2 separate regions of the Homo sapiens genome follow, and region 2 is linked to region 1. The links come from fine-mapping of genetic effects on gene expression. Tissue or cell type: whole blood. Region 1 holds a variant in brackets; the other region holds the start of a gene. All regions are shown on one strand. Distances are from middle to middle.

Region 1 (6,597 bases):
GAGCAAGACTTTGTCTCAAAAAAAAAAAATCCTTGCTGTTTGATTAAACCCAACTTAATCTCCTCATCTTAAGATCCTTAATGTAGTCACCTCTACCAAGTTCCTTTCACCTGTCAGGTAACATATTCACAGGTTCTGGGGATTAGGATGTGGAAATCTGTAGAGGGGCATTATTCTCTCTACAACAGTCCAGGAAGTTCAATATCCAAAATGAGGAATTCCAGGTCAAAAAAAAAAAAAGAGATAGAGAGAGAGAAAATAGAGGGGCAGAAGTTATCAAAGAAAAATAATACATGACAATTTCCCAAAACTTTAGGGCAAACATTTCCAGATTTAAAGAGCCTTCAGAGTGCCAGTGTAAAATCATGTCAAAAGCTTCCAAAGACAGAATGTCATACACAAAAGATCAAGGATCAGGCACTGGACTTTTTTTTTTTTTTTTTTGAGACGGAGTCTCGCTCTGTCGCCCAGGCTGGGGTACAGTGGTACAATCTCGGCTCACTGCAACCTCCGCCTCCCAAGTTCAAGCAATTCTCCTGTCTCAGCTTCCCAAGTAGCTAGGACTACAGGCATGCGCCACCGTGCCCGGCTAATTTTTATATTTTTAATAGAGACGGGGTTTTGCCTTGTTGGCCAGGCTGGTCTTGAACTCCTGACCTCAGGTGATCTGCCCACAGGCATTGGACTTTCTAACATCATCACTGGAAATTGGAAGAAGGCACAGGCCTTCATAATCTTGCGGAAAAATATTTCCAACCTAGAACTTATTGATAATCTTATTTTATTTTTAGAAAGAGGGCCTTGCTATGTTACCAAGGCTGGAATGCAGTGACTCTTCACAGGCACGACTGTAGTGCACTAGTCAGGCTTGAACTTCTGGCCTCAAGTTATCCTTCCACCATAGCCTCTCAAGTAGCTGGGACTAAAAGTATGCACCACCATGTCCAGCTGATAATTTTTTTTCTTTTAGAGATAGGGTCTCACTATGTTGCCCAGGCTGGTCTTGAACTCCTGGACTCAAGTTATCCTCCCACCTCAGCCTCTCAAAGTGCTGGGATTACAGGTGTGAGCCACTGCACTCAGCCTCCAGCTGATAATTTTATCAATCAAGTGTAAGTGTGGACTAAGTATGTTTCAGACATGCCTGGTCTCACTGAATTTTCCTTCCATGCATCTTTTCTCAAGAAGCTACTAGAGGACGTGCTCCATCAAAATGAGAGAGTAAACCAAGAAAGTGGAAAACAGAGAATCCAGGAAACAGGGGATGCAACAGAAGAGAGAGGTAAATGTTATTACAGAGGACCCAGACCACAGGTGTGCACAGGGCCCAGCACAGCAACCAGGCTGATTGCAGCCCAGGATAGAGGGCTTAAAGCAAGACACAGAACTAATAGGTTCTGAAGTTTTAATTATATTAACAAAAGCTTTAGAGTTGTGACAGAGATAAATTAGCAACTACATTGAAAATATAAAAACCCATCAAAATTACTAACTCTGAGAAAAATGAAATTGTACCAAAAAACGCAATCACAGTGCATTGGGTAGTCAGTGGCATATAATATTTTCCCAAGTCATAGGACAGTAAACACTGAATATTGGTTTAACTAGAACCTGTGATCTTGGGGTGGTGAGATAAGATAAACGTGTGTGTGCCTGTGCCTAAGAACTAAATCCTCATTTTCTATAGCAGGTAGTCGATTATATGATGCTTAAAGCTGAAACATCAAGATAAAGCTAAAAGAGTTGAAGGTGGCTGCCTCTGGGACAAGGGATCAGCACCAGTGAGTAGGGCTATTTTTAGAATAAACCTTATAGGGCTACTTGATTTTTTAAACTATGTACATGCATTTCTTTATATATCTATATATATATATATATATACATACACACACATATATATACACACATATACACACATATGTATATATATGTGTGTATATATAGTGTGTGTATATATAGTGTGTGTATATATATGTGTATATATATATGTATATATATATATTTTTTTTTTTTTTTTTTTTTTTTAAAGGGAGGAGAGAAGGGAAGAAAATCCTCTCTGAAAAAGGAGGCATTGGCGGGTTTTGGGAGGAGGCGGCCCCTCTGGCATCTTTGGGTTTTCTCTGACTTCAGCCTCATTAAATCACAGGAGGGAGATGACCTCAGCAAAGGACATCGAACCTGTGGGAGCACCTGTGAGGCAAGAAGTCCTCTGCCCTCTACCCTCACCCTCCCCAGCCATCACAGTGCGGTGGCAGACAGGCCCTGTGAGCGGCAGGCACCTGTCAGTGCCAGAGTCCTCCCAGCAGGCCTGGTGGCCCTGGTGAAGGGGTCAGCTTGGGAGAGACGAAGCTTCTTGGGATGGAGCTGGGTGGGAGAGGTGGAGAGGAGGACTTCATGGCTACATAGTACATTACAATCATGCCTGTGAATAGTCACTGCACTCCAGCCTTGAAGGGAGATGGGGCAGGGGGTGATGGAGAAACTTCCTTGCAACATGGACCTGAGTGGATCCCACCCTCCTGACACCCAATGGGAATGTTAATATGGCTCAGCTTGCTCCGGCAGCCAGAGACACCCTCTGTCCTCTGAGGTCCTCAACTCTCTGCTTCAGTCTCCAACTCAGAGAAAATCTCAAGAGAGGGGCATGGCTCCTGGCAGGGGGGTTGGGGAACAAAAGAAAATGTCGCCTCCCATCAACAATGGGTATGTGGCTCCTGAGAGGGCTGACTCCTGGCACACCCCACCCCAAGTCATGTAGGGTCACTTTGGGTGGGGCTTCTGGGTTCCTAGAGGTAGGAGGGATTTGAGCAAGACCCCAGGCAGAACTCAGGCTCTGCAGCTCTGACACCCTGGAGCTCAGTACAGTCACAAAGAAAAGTGGTGAAGAGTTCAAAGAACATGGGTCACTCCTAGCCTGAGAACAAGAGAATGGCAGGTGACCCTAGATGGCGTCCTCTATCCTCTTTTAAAATATGGCCGGGCGCAGTGGCTCACACCTGTAATCCCAGCACTTTGGGAGGCCGAGGTGGGAGGATCACCTGAGGTCAGGAGTTGAGGACCAGCCTGGCCAATATGGTGAAACCCCATCTCTACAAAAACACAAAAAC[G/A]AGCCAGGCGTGGTGGTGGGCGCCTGTAATCCCAGCTACTCAGGAGGCTGAGGCGGTAGAATCACTTGAACCCGGGAGGCGGAGGTTGCAGTGAGCTGAGATCGCACCATTGCACTTCAGCCTGGGCGACTGAGCGAGACTCCGTTTCAAAAAAAAAAAAAAAAAAAGGACGGTCACCATCAAATTGTACTGGGCTTTCAAGGGAAAAAAACATGTGAGATGTGCTATCAAAACACTGAAAGAGTAGACTTTAAGTGATGAACGTTCTCAAAGGGAGAAGGAAATTCAGTGTGGAGCTCCGTGAACAGCGGACGTCTCTAATTTGAACCCAAGAAGGAATAAGCTTATTCCCCAGATTCTCCACAGAATCAAAATCCACATCGTAGGGAACTAACTAGCATTGGTGGATGGTAACATGTTAAAGAGCAGGTGTGGGGACAGGGTGTGTCTGGGGTCAAATGTTTGGAAAATGCTGAATTAAACAAAGGAAATGGGCAAGAATGCTCAATAATGTTCATTGTAAACATCCCAAAGAAGTTTATATCTTTTGACAGTTGCACCTGTTTTTAAGAAGCAATGGATGGGATTATAGTTCCATGGAACACATTTTGGGAAACACTGGCCAAGTATCTCAAGCCCCTGAGGGCTTGGCCATCCCTAGCACCTGTGTGCAATATGCTTGGCAAGAACACACATCTGTGAGCTTCTTTGCTCCCCAAACCCCCACCTAGCTAGGAAGTTCTGAAATATTTGCAGGATGGACTCCATCTTTTTGTCATGCACAAGTCATATAGTTTATGGTTTTTGCAAAAAGGTGTGTCTTTCATTAATTTTCTTAGACATGGGGAAGAGCCTTGGAAAATAGGACCTTAGCTGACTCGATTCTTCTAGTTCTTACTTTTTTTTTTTTTTTTTTTTTTTGAGATGCAGTCTCATTCTGTCGCCCAGGCTTGAGAGTGCAGTGGTGCAATCTCGGCTCCCTACAACCTCCACCTCCCAGGTTCAAGCTATTCTCCAGCCTGAGCCTCCTGTGTAGCTGGGATTACAGGTGCCCACTACCACTCCTGGCTAATTTTTTTTTTTTTTTAGTTTTCACCATGTTGACCAGGGTGGTCTTGAACTCCCTTTCTCAGGTGAGCTGCCTGCCTCAGTTTCCCAAAGTGCTGGGGTTACAGGCATGAGCCACCAAGCCTGGCCTGGCTCTTTCTTTCTTGATTCCGTGGGTCTCTCTTCAACCCCACACATCACCCTGAGAATCACCTGTTTTCATGCCCTTGTTCCAAGAGCTGTTTGTCAAGCCTTAAATGACTTATGTATTTATTCAGGGTCCCTTTACCTTTTTAAAAGGTGGAATGCCACAGGCCCACTTGCAACAGGGGCTTCTCATGCGATATTGGTGCCCTTGAGGGTGTGGAAATGCGCAGGTGACAAAAATCCACTCTGTAGTCCATTCACCAAGTCTTAGTTGATTAACGCTACTATGATACCTGAGACTGGGTGTCTCATAAATAACAGAAATTCATTCTCTGGACGTTCTGGAGGCTGGGAGGTTCTAGGAGCCTGCAGGTTCCGTTGTCTGGTGAGGGCTGGTCTCTGTGTTTAAGATGGCACCTTATTGTTGCATCCTCCGGGCAGGGTGGGGGGCAACGCTGTGTCCTCACATGGCAAAGGCGGAAGAGCAAGGGAGCTGAAGGCTGTGTGAAGCCTCTTTAGTAAGAGCCTTAATCCCATTCACAAGGGAGGACCCCTCATGGCCTAATCACCTCTTAAAGGCCCCATCTCTCTTAATTCTATCACACTAGCAACACCTGAATTTTGGAGCGGACACATTCGAACCACAGCACCAATTCCAACAACATGGTTTGGGGCTGCATCTACCTGGTTGGGGGGCGGGGGGGCGAGGAGCACCTTTTGCTCACTGGCACAAAGGTGCTGCTGAGTGGGCCAGTGGCAGCTCTGACTTCCTGTAAGGTTATAGGGTTTACAGATTTCACCAGATTAGCATAACCTGGGAGTAGCCTCGTGTCAATGATTTCTGAGTTAATTAATGGTGTCTTTGAACTCCAGAATTGAGCTGAGCGGTTTTAGACCCACACGAAGCCAGCAGCTCTGCACTGGCACCTCTGAGAAGGGAAGGGAAAAAGGACGTTTGACCAATTATATTAAAATTGCGGGCTGGGCATGGTGGCTCATGCCTGTAATCCCAGCACTTTGGGAGGCTGAAGTGGGAGGATTGCTTGCATCCAGGAGCTCAAGACGAGCCTGGGCAACATAGTGAGACCCTGTCTGTAAAAAAAAATTAAAAATTAGCCAGGTGTGGTGGTGTGCACCTGTAGTCCTAGCTACTTGGGAGCCTGAAGTGGGAGGACCACTTGAGTCCAGGAGGTTGAGGCTGCAGTGAGCTGTGATCACACCATTGCACTCAGCTTGGGCAACAAAGTGAGACCTTGTCTCAGGAGAAAAATAAAAAAAGAACTGCTGCTACTTCCTTCCTAAAAACAGGCCCCCTCTTCCTTCCACTGTGGAACTGAGCATTCAGCCTCAGCCACCAATTTTGTAAATACAAATTTCCCCTTCCCCTCGCACACTGACCCTCAAATCTCTAAGCAGCCTGAATAGCACACGAGGGTACTATAGGGCACATCAGCATGCCCTGAAGGCAACCTGGACGTTTAATTTTTTAAATTTTTTAAATTTTGTTTTTTGAGACAGAGTTTCCGTCTTGTTGCCCAGGCTGGAGTGCAGCTGTGTGGTCTCAGCTCACTGCAACCTCTGCCTTCCGAGTTCAAGCGATTCTCCTACCTCAACCTCCTGAGCAGCTGGGATTACAGGTGTGCACCACCACGCCTGGCTAATTTTCGTATTTTTAGTAGAGACAGGGTTTCACCATGTTGGCCAGGCTGGTCTCGAACTCCTGACCTCAGGTGATCCGCCTGCCTCAGCCTCCCAAAGTGCTGGGATTACAGGCATGAGCCACCATGCCCAGCCCAACCCGGCCTTTTAAATTTTTACCACTTCAGTGTTTTCTCACTCTGGGTGGGAGGGAATCTTCTGTATTATAGCATTTCAGAAACACTCTTGAAGACAGGATGGAGACATGTAATGAATCTTTTTGATTTCCAAGGTATGTCCTGTGTTTGTGAGTGAGATTGTTTGGGGGTATGAGTTCCCTGGCTCAGTGCTTCTCAAATTTGAATGTGTAAATGAATCACCTCAATACTTATTAAACATGCAAATCATGATTCAGCAGGTGTCTTTCTAACAAGCGGCCAAGTAATGTTGATGTGGCCAGTCCACCGGAGGTGCAAAGCATGGCGATGGTGCTGCCCGTGCTTTGGGATCAGAGACCCCCGTGTTACAATCCTGCTTCTGTCTTTTACTCACTGCTTGACCTTGAGTAAGTTATTGACCTTTACGGAGCCTTAGCTTTTTCCTCTGGAAGAGACAGAGAAATGGATATCCACTTCCAAACACTCTTGTTAGAATCACA
Region 2 (5,799 bases), 57 kb after region 1:
GGCAGTGCTAGGGAGGAGGCACCCCTGGTTCCTCCACTGTGTTTAGATGAACTACAAGTAAGAAGCAGCTCCTCCATCTCTTTGGCCATTCCTGACAGCATCCAGTCCACAGTGATGATGGAGGAGCAGGGTGGTTCCCAGGGATTGATGACCATGCCCTGGGGTGACAGCAGGCTGAGGGCTGACCCTGGTCATCACTCACCCTGTGCAGGAGCCCCACACCCTGCCCTTCACTGCTGCCTGCAGGCTGAATGCTTAAAAATCAAACCACCAAGATCTGTTCTCTTCTCCCAAGGAGCTTCCTCCTGCATAGAACAGGTAACCAGGGGTGGGCCCATGTCTGCCTTCCTGGGCTGCTTGGTGAGATAGGCCCATCTCCAGTGGTAGGCATCTGAGAGCATGTGCAGGTAGAGGCACACAATGGCCCTGTTTTTTGACCCCTCTTTGAAAAAAGAAGGATTTACCGTTCATATCTCACATATGGGGAAACTGAGCCCCAAAGCAGTCTGGGCCGTGTTCCAAGTTCACCAGCCAGCCAGGCCAGTGAGAGAGCATCACCCAGAAACCCAAAAGCCCTGCCTCCCCGGCCACAATCCTTAGCTATGTGACCTTGGGCAAGTTACTTAACATCTCTAACTTGAGGCTTTGCTACTAGCAGTGAAGTCACAGGGCTTTGGCGAAGATTCAGTGAATAATGCACACAAACTGGTTTGCATGGAGTCTGGCATAAAACAGGTGTTCAATAAATATATTATTATTATTATTACAGCAGATGACAGTCTTTAATTCTGCATCCTCTTCCTGTTTTGTCACAAGATTCCAAATATTATTCAGCAGTATAACTCCGTCTCCAGTTTTCAGGGCAGCTGAGAACAGGGAAGGGTTAAGGTGGAGGTGAAGGGTGGCAGCAGGGCGGGGCACTGAGGTGCCATGTCTTGCTCCATTCCCAACACCCTCTGTGACCTTGGGCTGGTCTCTCTCTCTCTGCCTCTCTCTCTGTCTGTCCTCAGGCCCTTTGTTCTTGATGCATCCAAATGACAGTGCTGGCTGCTCAAGGCTGCAGTGAGCCCACCCCAGGAGGCCAGGAGTGTCCGAAAACCACATGTGCTTCTGGAAGATGTGGAAACTCTCCCAGAAGCCCTGGGAGGCAGGCTGGCAGGAAACCTCCTGGGGATCAGAGAGCCCAGGGCTGCCGGATATGATATTGTGAACTCGGTGGCCTCTGCCCGGGGCTGCTGCTACCGGAGCCCTCCCACACCTGCCTCCCATGCTTGCAGGGGAGGGAGACAGAGAACCCCTCAGCCAGGCCCCTCCTGCCCCACTACTCTGCACTCCCTGCAGAGCTGGCTTGGCTTCGTCAAAAGCAGGGCCCATCAGGGTGGAGGCGGCGATGTGTCAGCTGGTATTCAGGCTCTGGTTGTGCGCTCAGATCGCTCCCCCTCCCCATCTCCCCAAATCCACCCACCCACCCCGGTACCCACTGCTTGGGGCCTTCTGGGTGGCAGCACTTCACAGAGAGAGACCGAGGAGCAGCCCTGAGCCCTTGGCTGTGGGGGGTGGGGGAACTGACTCACTTGGCCCCCCTCCCTCGTGCCGATGGGGCAGCCCCCACACCCATGGGCGCTGGCACCCCGGCAGGCCCCCGGGTTTTGGAAGAGGAAGCTGCAGCCCGGCTGCGCCTGACCGGAGCCGGCTGAGGATGCGCTCTGGGCGCAGGGACCCGCTGGCCCCCGGGCCGGGAGGCGATGTTTAGGCAGCGACCCCCCAGAGGCTGCCGGGGCCACCCTGGCCACGGGCCCGCCGGGACGCCCCTGCTCGCCGCGCCCCTCCCCGGGCCGTGGCGCGTCCCCCGAGCCGCGCAATATTTCCTTCCTGCACCTTTAAGAAGACCGTTGCTCCGTGGTGGGATGGTGTGTTAAAGCCACACAGAGGAAGTTACGCAGCCCGGATCAGACCGAGAGATAAAAGCCCCGATGGTGATCGTGAGTGATGGCAAGAGGATTTAGCCTCGGCATTAACTTGGAGCGGAGTGCAGGGGGGCAGTGAAGCGCCCGCCATCTGGCCCGCGCCGCGCCGGGGGGATGCCCCGGCTCCCCGACGAGACGCCGCGAAGCCCACCCGGGCCGGGGGCTGCCCGGCGCCCGAGCGCGGGTCCTCCCCGGGCCGCCCAGGGGGGCCAAAAAGTTTGCACTTGTTAGCGGCGACCTCCCGCTCAGCCCGGGCGGGCGATGCGGGCGGCGCGGGCGGCCCCCTCCCCCGGCCCGCGTCTCCGGGACGGCTGCGGGCGGCCCCCCCGGCGGCCGGAGGGCTCCCTGGCCCCGATCTGACGGCGGCGGCGGCGGCGGCCACAGCGGCGGGAGCGGCGCGGGGAAGGAGCAGCGGCTCGCAGCCCTCGGCCCGCGCCCCCACCCAGCGCCAGCCCGAGGGGGGAGGCGCAGCGCCGGAGGGTGGCGGTCCTCGGCCCTCCCAGGTCTCCGCGCCGGGAAGCCGCTCCGAGCCGGGGTAAGGCGGGCGGGGAGAGCCCGGGAGGCGGGCGGGGGGAGAGGCTGCAGCTTGGCCAGGCCGGTTTCATTTTTAAAGGGCTTCGGTGACCATGCAGGCTTGCCCGGGCCCGGGAGCCACTTACAGCGGCCCGGCAAAGGCTCGGATGCAAAAGTTGTTTGGTGGCGGCTGCTACGAGCTGAGAACTGGAGTCGCCCCAGAGGGGTGTGTGAGGGTGCGTTCTTAGCAGCATCTTAAAGGGGTAGCTTGTCTTTCTGGCCAGCTTCCCCCGGGTCCTTTCCGTCGTGTGTGTGAGAGTGTGTGTGTGTGTGTGTGTGAGAGAGAGACAGAGTGTGTGTGTGTGTGTGTGTGTGTGTGTGTGTGTGTGTGTGTGTGTGTCGGGGAGGGATGTTGCAAGGATGCTCGGATGTGTCTCGGAAAAGGAAACTAACCCTGCTCCCGCGCCTCTCCCCCACCCCAATTCCACCGCCACCGCTTAGAGCCACCCCCATCCCGTGCCCTCCCATCTCTCTGCAAACTGGGAGCCTGTGAGTTGCACAGAGAAACTCCCGGCCAGTCCGGCTGGAAACTTCTCCCGGCGCCGGGAGGGGGTCGGGAGGTGAGGGGGCGCAGGCACTGGTTTGGGGCCGGCGTGGAGTCGAACCTGGAACTGAGCGGCGCGCAGGTGGGGGGAGCAGAGGCGGCGGGAAGGCGGGAAGAGAGGACCGCGGGCTCGCGGGGTCCGCCCGCTCCGGAGTAAGTTGGCCGTCTGGGCTGGGGGCGGCGGCGGCCGGGTCGCCACAGGCGGCAGCGCCGGGGCAAAGGATACAGCCAGTTCCTGGGCGCCCTGCTCTGTGTCTTTTAATTAAGAGAGGCAGTGCCGAAAAAGGGGGCGCCTCAGTCCCGGCCGGGCCTTTATTACGGGCTTAATTATTAATTGCTGCCGTGGCTTGCACGCAACTTTGGGAAGACGAAAAGCAGCTGCGGGGCTGCCGGGTCGTCGGTGTCCTAGGCACAGGGCTCGCAGCCGGCCCGAAGCACTGACTCGACCCTGGCCCCGGCCTCGACCCCGCCCGCGGCCCGCCGGGACCCACCCGGGAGCTGCTGCTCGCGCCCCGCCTCCCGCGCCCAACTTTCCAGGGCTCCCGCGGGCGGGGACCCAGGGGCCGGATAAAGGGCCCGCTCCGGAGCGGGGGGACACCCGGGCCGCCGGAATTAAGAGGCCCGCCGAGGCTACAGTGAGCGCGGGGCGCCCGCTGGACCCCGCCCGGGGCAGAGGACGGGAAGGTGACCCCGCCGGCCAAGCTCCCTTTCCCTCCCGGCAACCGCCACTCTCCCCTGAAAGCAGATTTCACCCCCCTCTGCCGCCCCTGCCGAGGAGGGAGAGGGAACCCCGGGGTGGGCTGAGTATCCCCCCTAGCCCCGGGAGCCCCCAGCGCCCTCCCTCCCGTGCCCCCAGGGGCCCCGCGCCCGCCGCGGCAAGTTTCCCACACGGCGAGGGCGCAGCAGGCAACTCCAAGAGGAACCTGCTGGCGAGCCCAGCCAGCTCGGGAGGCGCTAATTCAATAAGACAGAGAAATCTGAGTTCAGAAATCCTGATAAAATCTAATTTTCGAGTTTTAATACCCTGGCTATCAGCCCCCCTTGGTTCCTGAGGACTCTTAAAAGAAAATAAAGCACATTGATTCTATTTGTTTCTGGGAGCTGCAGTTTCTTAATAATATCAGGTGAAGATAAATTTTCCACGGAGAAAACGATCCTCCGGGATGCAGCTTCTTACTCTGAAAATTTCCCTGCCGACTCCTCACTCTCTGCGCTCCTCCTCGTTATCCGGGGACTCCTGCCTCTCTTCCCCCTTCTCTTTTTTCTTTTTGGCAGAACCCGCCTGCAATATTCGTGTGCTGAGCTCGTAATTCCCCCTGCGATGCCAGCAACGCCCAATTGATTGACTAGTTGTAAACACATTTTTCCCCTGGCAGATTTTGTTGTTGTTAGGGTTTTTTAAATTTATTTATTTTCCAGGGAATGCGTGGCATTTAAACCAACAGGACTGCAATTAATAGATTTGCGAGTTGCGCCGCGCGCGCCGCTCGCCCCAGCCTCCCGGCCTCCGGGCCTCGCTGCCTCCCCGCGCCCGGCGGCGTCCAGCGCCCTGCAAGCCCCGAGCAGCCGCGGGTCCTGCAGCTGAAGGAAGGTTGCAGCTGCGCCCTCCTTGCAAGCCGCAGCCCGGCGTCCTGGTTGTCCCAGCAGCCAGGAGATCCCTACCTGTTAGTGAACAGTTAGGAGTCGACTGCTGGAAGAATTAATTAGGAACGTGCTGTGCTCTGGGCAGCGCGAGCTCGGGTAGAGGCATCCAAACCTTTGCCGGCGGCGCTATTTTATTTTTACTACATTTTCTCAGGTTGCAAAAATAGACACCGGGCACGTTCTGTCTTAGAGTTTTCTAGCAAGGAGCGCCTTCAAGGCCAGGCAGGCTCTGTAACAGGTTCCCCTTTAAACAGCCAGAGGTGAGACGGGGAAAATGGTCCTGGCTGGGTTCTCGTTCATCTCCATCAGCAGTCCTTCACCCAGAGAGAGGGGCAGGGGTCGCCCTAACTCAGATGAATGAGTCCCATGCCTGGAGCCCTGGGGCCCTGGCTGGGGGCTGCTCCGAGCCTGAGGTGCTCAGGGCGCTCAGGGCAGCAAGTGTCCGCCACTTCGGTTTGTCATTTTTGGCAGGAGCGTTTTTCTGTCTGGGTGGAGAATGGAGTTTCACGGAAACACAGTTAACTCTTCAGGGGCCTTGCAAGTACAGGAGGTGAAGAGGATGTCAGGGGAGAGCCAGGTCCAGACTGGACATTTGGGGTGGTTTGGGAAATCAAATGCAATCATCGAAGACATATTAACCAGAATAATTAATCATGCAGGCACTTTTTTACTGCAGTAACCTTTGCCCTATTGGCCAATATTTTTGGCCAGAATCCCATGCTGGCTGGACTTGGATTCTCCGGGTGACGTATCCAGTGTCTGGAACACACCACAGTACTGCAGTCGTGTTATTTCCCAATGTAACATTCATGTAACTGGTATCTATTTTGATATAATATATTAATTATATCTATTTTGATTTTAAATAATTAACAGAAGCTTAAAATAGCACAGCAATAATCGTAATTGTAACCCATTTATAGACCTACCCTCTAAGAATGATTTGCAAAATGCTGGCCTTGATCAGAAAAATCTGAACTCACAAAGCATTGTTACCTCTTTGGCAGTCTTCAATATCCCTAGTTTCTTACAGTTAAAAAAAATTAAATTTGCCATTTCAGATTGTGCCTA

What was found. PIP is the estimated chance that this variant, and not a neighbour inherited with it, causes the effect.
Region 2: it holds the start of NTNG2, and the variant in region 1 is fine-mapped to the expression of NTNG2 in whole blood (INTERVAL, PIP 0.95).

Annotation. Positions count from the first base shown.
Region 1 is chr9:132,102,026-132,108,622 of GRCh38, forward strand. LOC105376302 (a long non-coding RNA gene) reads left to right here and starts at 1,195. Exons shown (of 3, transcript XR_930403.1): 1 at 1,195-1,282; 2 at 1,688-1,781; 3 at 2,147-2,557. The variant G/A (reference allele first, on the strand shown) is at 3,108.
Region 2 is chr9:132,159,738-132,165,536 of GRCh38, forward strand. It overlaps NTNG2 (netrin G2), which reads left to right and starts at 2,321. Exons shown (of 8, transcript NM_032536.4): 1 at 2,321-2,502. LOC124902291 (a long non-coding RNA gene) reads right to left here and starts at 1,963. Exons shown (of 2, transcript XR_007061826.1): 1 at 1,879-1,963; 2 at 721-866.